Linked DNA regions of Homo sapiens: region 2 is linked to region 1. Evidence: fine-mapped expression QTL. A gene starts in region 1. The other region holds a variant in brackets. All regions are shown on one strand. Distances are from middle to middle. Region 1 holds the start of TLR5 (toll like receptor 5). Region 2 holds the start of LOC102724046 (a long non-coding RNA gene).

Region 1 (5,377 bases):
TCTCACATTAAGGGACCAAGGCTGGGAATCACTTAAGCTTCAGAAATCTGATTGAAGCTTTGGATCTGCCTTCTGCATTCTTTTCCACAATGTTAAGAGTGAAACAAACACATCTGGATGCAGTAACTGGACATTCCAGTGCTGTCTGCTGTTTAAGTCTGTTAGTATACAGAGACAAATAAACAGGAGAGTTTTGCTTTCAACACTCAGCAGAGCCAAACTTCCTGATGCACGGGAATGAACAACGGAGGCACTGTTCTGGAAACACCGTCCTCCAGAGAGGCGCTCCCTCCTCAGAAACAACACCGAAAACCTGGCATGGCTGGTTTTGCATTCAGACAATGGCACCTACATGCTTTTTGCTTTGCTCAGAGCTGTAAATATCCAAAGAGGTGATCCTCTGCCATCATTTTGGAAGGAAGAATCAGTCAGACTGATAATTAGGGTCATACGCACAGGCATGGTCATGCTGATTGTTGAAATTTAGATTATTTTTGGCCCAGCACAGTGGCTCACACCTGTAATGCCAGCACTGTGGGAGGCCAAGACAGGCGGATCACCTGAGGTCAGGAGTTTGAGATCAGCCCGACCAACATGGTGAAACCCCATTTCTACTAAAAATACAAAAATTAGACAGGCGTAGTGGTGGGTACCTGTAATCCCAGCTACTTGGGAGGCTGAGGCAAGAGAATCGCTTGAACCCTGGAGGCAGTGGTTGCAGTCAGCCGAGATTGTGTCACTGCAGTCCAGCCTGGGCGGCAGAGTGAGACTGTCTCAAAAAAAAAATTACATATATATATATATATATATATATATATATATATATATAGAGAGAGAGAGAGAGAGAGAGAGAGAGAGAGAGAAAGAGAGAGAGAGAGATTATTTTTGTACTGCTTAGTAATTAGCTTTAGCACGGTCTCTCCTCTGGGACCTCCCCTGGAATTTCCCCACAATCCAGTAACTGAATAATTAGCATCCAGCCCCACAGAACTTCTCCCAGGGCCCTGCTCCAGGGCTTCCCTTCTGACTGGCTGTGCATGGCACACTGGGAATTGTTTTCTGCCCACAAGAACAAGGGTGAACTGAGTCAAGGAGTCCAAGAGATCTTGGACGCACTTCTCAGAATTCGGAGGGGCTGGGTAAATGCAGGAGAAAATTGATGAAACCACATTGGCCCTGCAAGAGCCTGACTGCTCCTGCACGGTAGCTACCCCTAGCATTAGCGGGGAGTCACCAATGCCTCTTCCAGGCACTGAGCAAGAGGGCGGCATTACAGATGCACTTGCCGTCCAAACAGATCATCTCATTGACTAGGTGACTGCTCAGCAACAGTATCTGAAGGACACTAGGGTTACTCTGCTTGTTTGCAGTTCACGGTGCTGGACGGATGTGTTCCCAACACTAGGTAACAACACCGCTCTCCCTCCTCCGGGAGAAAGCCGCAGCCGTCGATTCCCACCCAACAGGGCCTCAGCGCCTTCCCAGGGCAGCACCCTCACTCCTGCAACCACCAATCACCCAAGCCACAGCATGGTCCCAGACCCACCCTCGCCCCTTAGGAAATGGCTTTCCAATTGTGTTTTCACAGGAGCATGGCCACTGGGCAATGATCTTCACAGGCAGGCTTTTTTTTCCCCCTCTCAACATAAAGGCCAGCAATATTTACCACGGAGTCTTGGCCAGTGTGCACTGCCTGGTGCTGTGGGGTGGGGTGTTTAGGGCCTTTTGTTGAGCAGCTCAGTGACTTTCTGGGATTTCCATGGCCCTGCTGGAGATGGCCCTCTGTCTCCCTTTTCCAAGGAAGAAAGTGACTGGGGACAAGCCACCTGCCTCTTCCACAGGGTGGGGGCGAGAGTGACAGCGAGACAGCACAAGAAGGACCCGCTCTGTTTCAAAGCGAGGATGTGAGTGACTTCGTCTGTGCCGAGGTCTCTTCGTCTCCAACCTGCCGGGCACAGGGCACCCACATGACACGCTCACCCCGTCCCTGGGCCGAGGGACCCCACGTCTCGCGGGTGCCGCGGGGCAGAGAGCGCCGCCTAGTGAGGCGGCGCGAGTTGGACATAGACTGGAAAATAGACCCGGACAGCCCGGGAGGAGGGCGGAGAGGAGTCCGACCTCCGCAGGCAGCCGCGTCCCCGCCCCGCGCTGCCTACGACTTAGGGCCCCCGGCCCATCCCCTGCCGCTGCAGGGCGCTCACCTCTGGGACGCCTCCCCGCGCCGCCTGCGCCACGGTTGGCTCCTCCCGGACGCAAAAGCGGCGCCCTCGCTCGGGCTCCTGAAAACCTCGCGGCCCCGCCCACGGAAGGGCCCGCCCACCTGCCAGGCCACGCCCCCGTCTCGGCCACGCCGCAGCTCAGGGTTTTCTCTGAGGGCTGTGAGAGGCTAGGCCCGGGGAGAGGAGGCAGAGGTTATGCTCCGGTCTCTGCAGACTTCCACAGTGTCTATCGAGATCACACATGCCAGCATTGCCCCCTCCCATCCTCTCCTCATCGTACGGAGGAGGAAACCCAGGCCGAAGACCTGAAGTGTCCAAAAGCACAGCCAGGCCAAAGAGAAGCACCATCCCATGTTCTCCCACTCCCACTCCGGTGCTTCTTCAGGTAGGCTAAACTTCAGGCTAAAATGTGAAGATCACAGTGACACATTCCTGTCAGCAGAATCTGCTGCATATGTTTGGGAGCTGGGGTGTTTGGAAGCTCCGATTTTGTGTGGAGGACCCAAGAGAGAAGACAGACCCTTCCTGTCCTATAAGAACAGTGCTCCTCCTGCCCTAACTTCTCTTTTCCTTTTTCTAACTCCCTCTGCCTATGGGGTTTGCTGAAACTTTCAGGAAAAGGGACGTGTCAAAAGAAAGAAATGGACACCCCAGAGGCCGTGCAACCACAGGGTTAAAAGGAGGTAGCCTTATGAGAAAGCGGTGGAGTGGCTTTCTGGGGTGAAACCCAGTTCAAGGACAGAAATAGCACTGTCTTGAGTTAAGACTGGTGGTGGGGGAAGCCTGGGGGTGGGGCGCAGACTGCAGGCGGAGGAGCTCCCTGCCACCTGCCACTTGGGGTGTAATCACAGAGCAGCTGACACTCCCCACTCACTGCCTGGAGGAGCTTGGCGGTGGGATCGGGCAAGGCGGGAAAGATAGGTGTAAAACAAAGCCTGGCACTTAATTACAGTGCAAAGATCTCATTATAGAGTCTTCTCAGCTCCCCTCCTCGGCTGGCAGCTTGAAGCCTGAGTGACAAATTGCCTAGGTAGGTCTCCAAGGGCTGTATGTAGAGGGATGAAACCACCTCCCTGCCCACCCGAACCCCACTGTGGGGGCTGTGGAGAGGGAGGGGATGTTCACACTCTGGCATATGCAGGGGGCAGTGGGGAAGTCTGTAAGGGCACCTAGAAAGCAGTAAGAGCTGGGAGCCACAGTGGCCCTAGCCTGACATAAATAACACCTTGCTGGGGCAAGCCCAGTGTTCCCTCTTTTGGTAGTGGAACCGAGGGCAAGGTTGGGGACAGCTTGACGTGTGGCACTGTTTACTCTGCATCATAGGTGGATGCTGCAAGACCAGCAGGGGCCTGGCTTATCATGCAACTTTGTGAATATGTGGGAGAGAGGAGCCTTCCAGACGGTGTTATGGCCTCCCAGGAACTCCCAAAGCCCCCTCCCCAGGGTGGCATCTGGTTTTGGACACTGGTTTCTGTCACTGAGCTCCAGGGACTCATGTCACACCTGGAAGAACTTTTAGATTCTGTCTGCCTGGCCATGTCTTCCAACAGCCGAGATCATTGAGGAAGATGACAACTTCTACCTGAACAGCCAGGACAGCTTAGGGTCTTCTCACATGTGGACCTTGAAATGCACTTCTGTTATTTTTCTCCAGTATATTCAGGGGAAGGGGGCTGGTGATCAAAGCTTTTGCTGAGCAGGAACAGAAGGGTTGTCACTTGCTTTTTTCTCCACTGAAACCTAGAGTAGCAAACACATCCTCGGGGTGCTATGTGATGCTCACAGGCAGAGCCCTGCCAGAGGTTCCCGTCATTCCCATATATTAAACCTTCAATGTCTTCCCTATGAACTACAAACAAAGTTTATATTCTAGGTCAAAACCCCATCGTCTAGCCCCTGACAACTTCTCTAGGCTTGTCTGCTTCCAGCCCCAACCTCCCAGTCCCCAGCCTCAGCAGCTGCCTTCCACTTGCTTAAGGTCTTCACGCATGCTATTTCTTCTACCTGGAATACTCTTTCTCCATGACTTTGCGTAGCTCACTCCTACCCACATTTTAGTGTTCCCTGTAATGTAACTTCTTCAAAGAGAACTTCCCTAACTCTTCTAATTAAATTAGGTCCCTCCCATTATTCTTCCTCTTTATAACCTATTCTTTTCCTTCACAACTCTCATTTCAATTTATGATTTTACATGGACATGTTTATTGGTTCAAGGTCAGCCTGTCCTTCATACTTAATAGATTTAATAGACTGTAAGCCTCACGAGGGTAGGGGCCATGTCTGATTTGTTCACTTCAAATCCAGTATCTGACAAGTGTCTCCCTATAAATATTTATTGATGAATGAATGAGTGAATGAATGATATCAGCAATCTTTATCTTAAAAGATAAAATTAGAACTCAATAAACTTGTAAACATAAGCAGTAGTGACTATTTCCATTAAAAAAGGTAGCAACCAAAACAAGATTCAAGGAAATACAAATACCAAGGTTTATTAGGTACTTCTTAAAACTAACCATCCATTCAACAAATGTGTATTAAGCTTCCGTAGCCCTTGTGCTTCTTGCCAGAAATACAAATCTAAATACGATCTGGCTCTCAGGAGCTTGCAGCCTGGGGGAGTAGGGTTGGACATGTAAATAAATGGTTATAGTGTAATTTGATAAATGCTGCAATAATATAGGTATCTAACTCTGCCTGGGAGTGCCTATATCTGGGACTTGGTGAAAAAGAAAAAGATGACTTTGTCACCTGGACGGGACAGAGGGAGGGCATTCTGGGCAGGAGACGAATGAAGGAATGTGGCTCATTTGGGGAACTGCCAGTGGTTTGGTAAATGGAGCGCAGGTTGTGTGAAGGATGGAGGCGGTTGAAGAGGTAGGTAGGCAATCACCAGATCCCACGTTCATGCACATGTGTTCTGCTGAGGAGTCTGGGCTATGCTCTGCCTCCCTGTAGGGCTTGGGGATCCACTGGATGGTGTTAAGCAATGGAGTGGCACCACACCTTCATATTTATAGACAAGAAGTTATAACCCTAATGGCAGTGTGTAAAATGAATGGAATGGGGGATGGGATGGTTAGCAGAAAGTAAGCCCAGTTAGGAGGCTACAGCAATTGTCTAAGCAACGATAATAAGAGTCTAAATTAAAGCAGTGG
Region 2 (5,377 bases), 49 kb before region 1:
TGCTAGGTATTTGCTTTAGGGGTATGTGGTATAAATGGGTTATAAACAAGTTATAAACAGGTTATAAATGGATTGTATGAACGAGTTCAAGACAGCCCCTGTGTATTGGCCCCCATGCTGTTTACTTCCACACCACAGCCCAGGACCGTTAACTCAAGCCTGCCAGCACCAAACTCAAATTCTTGCACATCCAATTGCTTTAAATGTAGGCCAAATATTATTTGCCCATTTAGAGCCTGCCTGCTTCGATAATTTGCAAAACTACACCCGACACCCTCTCACCATAGGTAAGACGAACCTCAGGGCTACAAAAGACCCCAAATGGCTGCTGTCCTTTGGAGCTCTCTGACCCAGAGACTCCTCACCATGATGCTCCCCACCATGAACCCTCTTGGGTTCAAACGATCCTCCAGCCTTAGCCCCCCAAGTAAATGAGACTTCAGGTACATGCCACCAGGCCTGGTTAATTTTTAAATCTTTTTTTAGAGATGGGGTTTCACCATGTTTGCCTAGGCTGGTCTCAAACTCCTGAACTCAGCAATCTGCCCGCCTGGGCCTCCCAAAGTGCTGGGATTACAGGTGTGAGCCACTGCACCTGGCTCCTTTTCTTTTCTTCTAGACCTGTGACATCTCTTAGACCTGTAACCTCCTCTCTGATCCTCCTCTCCCCTGGGAGTGTCCTTGCCCTTTTCTTCTGGTGGTGGCCCTGCCACTGCCTCTGGAAGGTCTTCTGCTGCAAGGGACTTTCCCCTTCCATGCATTCTGTCCAAGCTTCATCCAAATAAAGCTCTTGTGTGCTATTGCCATCTAGTGATCTGGTCTTTTTCTTGATCTTTCCCCAACATTCAAACTCATGAGAGTATAATTGTGTAAATAAGCAGATAAATCTAATTTTAGACACTACCTACCAAGGGGCTTCACTGACGTCTGTAATGTGAGAGTTAAGCAGCTTAGCTAGTAACACTACTGAAACACCACTGTTTTTACTGAAAGATATAATGTATGCAGGGGTCATTCATCACAGATACAGAACGTCCTAAAAAGAAAAAAAAAAAGTAGCATCAAACACATTTTAAATTATAGACCAGAAGAGTAAACAGACTTGTCTTGTTGGTTTTGTTGCTGCCTCGTGGGGCTAATGGCCAGCCCCTGGACAGTCCCAAGGGGGCAGCTCAGTTACCATTCTCAGGAAGAGGATACGACTGTCTACGGCTCTTCCCAACAACAAACACAGAGTAGCCATGCACATCTCAGGAATGGAGATGGAGCAAGAGAAAAACTAGCGATAACAGCTAGAGTTGGTTGCATTTCTAGTAGGTGCTAAACAACATGCAAGGTGTTGTACATGCATTATCTCAGGTATTCCTCACAAAACCCTATTATTAGTCCAAAGCTCAGAAGAGTTCATCAATTTGCCAAAGTTGCAAATCTAATCCATGGTAGAATTGGGATTCAAAGCCTGGTCAATGAGACTCCAGGAAGGACAGGATTTAACCGCCTTGCCCTGTTGCAGAAATTCAACTAGCCTGAGCATTTTGCAATGTGTCATAACTTCTGATAATGGGCTGAATAAAGGATGGCAGCAACATCGGTAGGAATTGCAGTATCTCTCAAAGTTACGGGCCAGGGGAGGGTGGGACAGGTGTCAGCAGACAGACTCCATGGACATGCTACATCCTGGTGTCAGATTTGGGGTACTGACCTCCACTGGGGTGTGTGTGGTGGAACAGGGTTCTGCCTAGTCACAGCCCAGTTCTATCAGATCAGGAACCCCGTCATCCTCCCAGGCTCCTTCCTGGCCACCTGCAGCAGCTGGGCCCAGGGCTGCTTCCATATTCAAGAAAGAGAGACATCGAAGTGACAGGGATGGAACAGAATGCTGAGAGATCAAGGGAAGTTTCTAGTTATTTTCCCATCCACACCCAAGCTCTCTCGTCCTCCGTTGTCAGCCCAGTCAGGAACATCTCGTCACTCACCCCACCTCCATAGGAACTGACCCTCTGTGGATGGTTTTCCATGGCTGCCATAACAATGTGCACTAAGGGAGTGGCTTGAACCAAAGAAATGTCTTGTTTCACAGTCCTGGAAGCTGGAAGTCCAAGATCAAGGTGTCAGCAGGGTTGGACCCTTCTGAGGGCTGTGGGGAGAGTCTGTTCCTGGCCTCTCCCTTGGCTTCTGGTGGTTTGCTGGTGATCCTCGGCTTGTAGAAGCTTCACTACGATCCCTGCCTTCATCTTCACCTGGCACTTTTCCTGCATGAGTGTCTACCTCTAAATTTCCCATTTTTACTTATTTTTTATTTTAAAATTAAAAAAACTTTTAATAGTAGAAAATTTTGAACATACACAAAAATAGAATAGTATAATGAACCCCCATGTACCCATTACATAG[T/C]GTCGACAATGACCAACAAATGGCCAATCTTATCTCATTTGTTCCTCCTCCCTGCACCTATCTCTATGGAAATATTTTAAAGCAAATTCTCCTTATCATTTTATTTACATACATGTCAGTCACATGTCTTCTAAATGATAACTTTTTTTTTTTTTTTTTTTGACACAGAGTCTCAGTCTGTCGCCCAGGCTGTAGTGCAGTGGTGCTATCTTGGCTCACTGCAACCTCCACTACCTGGGTTCAAGCAATTCTCATGCCTCAACCTCCTGAGTAGCTGGGCTAACAGGTGCATGCCACCATGCCCAGCTAATTGTGTGTGTGTTTAGTAGAGACAGGGTTTTGCCATGTTGGCCAGGCTGGTCTTGAACTCCTGATCTCAAGTGATCCACCTGCCTTGGCCTCCCACAAAGTGCTGGGATTACAGACGTGAGCCACCACACCCAGCCAAGAACTCTTAAATACATAATTTTGATACAATTATCTCACTATTAACTGAACAAAACAGTATCACCTGGCCAGTCATGGTGGCTGACACCTGTAATCCCAGCACTTTGGGAGGCTGAGGTGGGTAGATCACTTGAGGTCAGGAATTAGGGACCAGCCTGGCCAATATAGCGAGACCCTGTCTCTACTAAAAGTACAAAAATTAGCCAGGCATGGTGGCGTGCACCTATATTCCCAGCAACACAGGAGGCTGAAGCAGGAGAATCACTTGAACCCAGGAGGCAGAGGTTGCAGTGAGCCGAGATCACACCACTGCACTCCAGCCTGAGTGACAGAGTGAGACTCTGTCTCAAAAAACAAAACCAAAACCAAAAAACCCAGTATTACCAGATAGCTACTCAGTGTTCACATTTCCCCAAAAGTCAATTTGTTCAGGATCTCAACAAGGTCTATGTACACATTGTGTTTGGTTGATATGTCTTAAATTTCTTAAAATCTATAGTAGTTTCCTCTTCTCTCTTTTTTCTTATCATTTATTTATTGGAAAAAATTAGTTCACTTACCTTGTAGCATTTCACACATTTTGAATTTGGCTGATTATATCCTTTTCTTTTCTTTTCTTGTCTTTTCTTTTTCTTTTCTTTCTTTCTTTTTTTTTTTTTAAAGAAAAGGTCTTGCCCTTGCTCTGTCAACGAGGCTGGAGTGCAGTGGCACAAATACAACTCACTACAATCTCCACCTCCTGGGTTCAAGCGATCCTCTGGCCTCAGCCCTGCAAGTAGATGGGACTTCAGGTACATGCCACCATGCCTGGCTAATTTTTGTAGAGACGGGGTTTCGCAATGTTGCCTAGGCTGGTCTTGAACTCCTGAGCTTAGCAGTCCACCCACCTGGGTGTCCTAAAGTCCTGGGATTACAGGTGTGAGCCATCATGCCCAGCCCTTTTTCTTTTCTTTTTATAAAAAGCTTTTATTTTAGGTTCAGGGGTACATGTGCAGTTTTGTTATATAGGTAAACTCTTGATACTGGGGTTTGCTGTACAGATTATTTCATCAACCAGGTAGTAAGCCTAGTAACCAATCGTTTTTTCTGATCCTCTCCTTCCTCCCACCTTCTACCCTCAAGTAGGCCCCAGTGTGTGCTATTCCCCTCTATGTGTCCACGTGTTCTCATTATTTACCTTCAACTTATAAGTGAGAACATGTGGCATTTGGTTTTCTGTTCCTGCATTAGTTTGCTAAGGATGATGACCTCTAGCTCCATTCCTGTACCTGCAAAGGACATAATCTTCTCCTTTTTTATAGCTGTGAAGTATTCCATAGTGTATATGTACAACATTTCCTTTATCCAATCTGCCCTCGATGAATTTCCCATTTTTTAAGGACACCAGTCATATTGGATTAACCCCTTTCCTACTCCAGTATGACCTTGTCTTACCTGATTCCACATGCAGTGATCCTGTATGAGTCTGTTCTTGCGCTGCTATAAAGAAATACCTGAGGGTAGGTAACTTATCAAGGAAAGAGGTTTAACTGGCTCACGGTTCTGTGGGCTGTACAGGAAGCATGGCTATGGCATCTACTCAGCTTCTGGGGAGGCCTCAGGGAGCTTTTACTCAGGGCGGAAGGCAAGTGGAGCAGGCAGATCTCATGGCCAAAGCAGGTGCAAGAGAAGGAGAAGGAGGGGCCACACACTTTCAACCCACCCGATCTCACGAGAACTCACTCACCGTCATGAGGACTGCACCATGAGGATGGGGCTGAACCAATCATGAGAAATCCTCCTCCACGAGCCACTCACCTCCCACCAGGCCCCACCTTCCACACTGGGGACTACATTTCAACATGAGATTTGGGGGGACAAATAACTAAACTCTATCAGACCCTATCTCCAAATAAAGGAACATTCTGAGGCACTAGGGGTAGGACTTCAACATATAAATTTTGGGGGTCCACAACTCAGCCCACAGCACTCCATAATTCAGAAAGCCTTTTCTTTCCTGCAATAGTTTTGTTTGAGTCAATTGGCTGTTGTATCTGTAATGTCTCACACTCACAAAGCAGCTCATGATCTTCCCTGGCTGTGGGGGGAGCACAGGCTTCCACAACCCATGTGAGATTGAGTGTATTCCCTCCCAGGTCACAGACCCCCCATCACAGGGCACAGCTCTTTGCAGAGCACACAGGCCCCCATCAGGGGCTGGGGGAGCGGGCCCAGACCAGCACGGGTCCTCGAACTGCCGTGTTCTCAGAAATGCTGAGTATTCTCTCCTTAACAGCCTGGTTCCTGAGCCATCTATCCTATCCTGAGCTGGTCTCCATGTCACAGCGCTTACTTCTCTCACTTTGGCCTTTGCTTTGCCCTTCATATGAGCTGCCCTCCATTGTCTTGTTGGCTAAGGCCTCGGCTCTTGCTCATGGTTGCGTTGGCCACCTCGGGGAATATCTGTAAGGTTTGGGCTGACCCTGAATCATCCTGCCTCTGCCACTCTCCTGGGGGGACACTCCCACTCCAAGCCCCAGCTTCCTGGGAGAGGCCTGAA

What was found. PIP is the estimated chance that this variant, and not a neighbour inherited with it, causes the effect.
Region 2: its variant is the best candidate, but not a certain one, in a credible set for the expression of TLR5 in nasal epithelium (TOPMed, PIP 0.59).

What each region holds. Positions count from the first base shown.
Region 1 is chr1:223,140,995-223,146,371 of GRCh38, forward strand. TLR5 (toll like receptor 5) reads right to left here and starts at 2,254. Exons shown (of 6, transcript NM_003268.6): 1 at 2,202-2,254; 2 at 654-769. It overlaps LOC124904522 (a long non-coding RNA gene), which reads left to right and starts at 2,361. Exons shown (of 2, transcript XR_007066895.1): 1 at 2,361-2,604. RefSeq lists a silencer at 2,043-2,412.
Region 2 is chr1:223,092,386-223,097,762 of GRCh38, forward strand. LOC102724046 (a long non-coding RNA gene) reads right to left here and starts at 3,500. Exons shown (of 2, transcript XR_007066892.1): 1 at 3,399-3,500; 2 at 1-2,089. The variant T/C (reference allele first, on the strand shown) is at 2,392.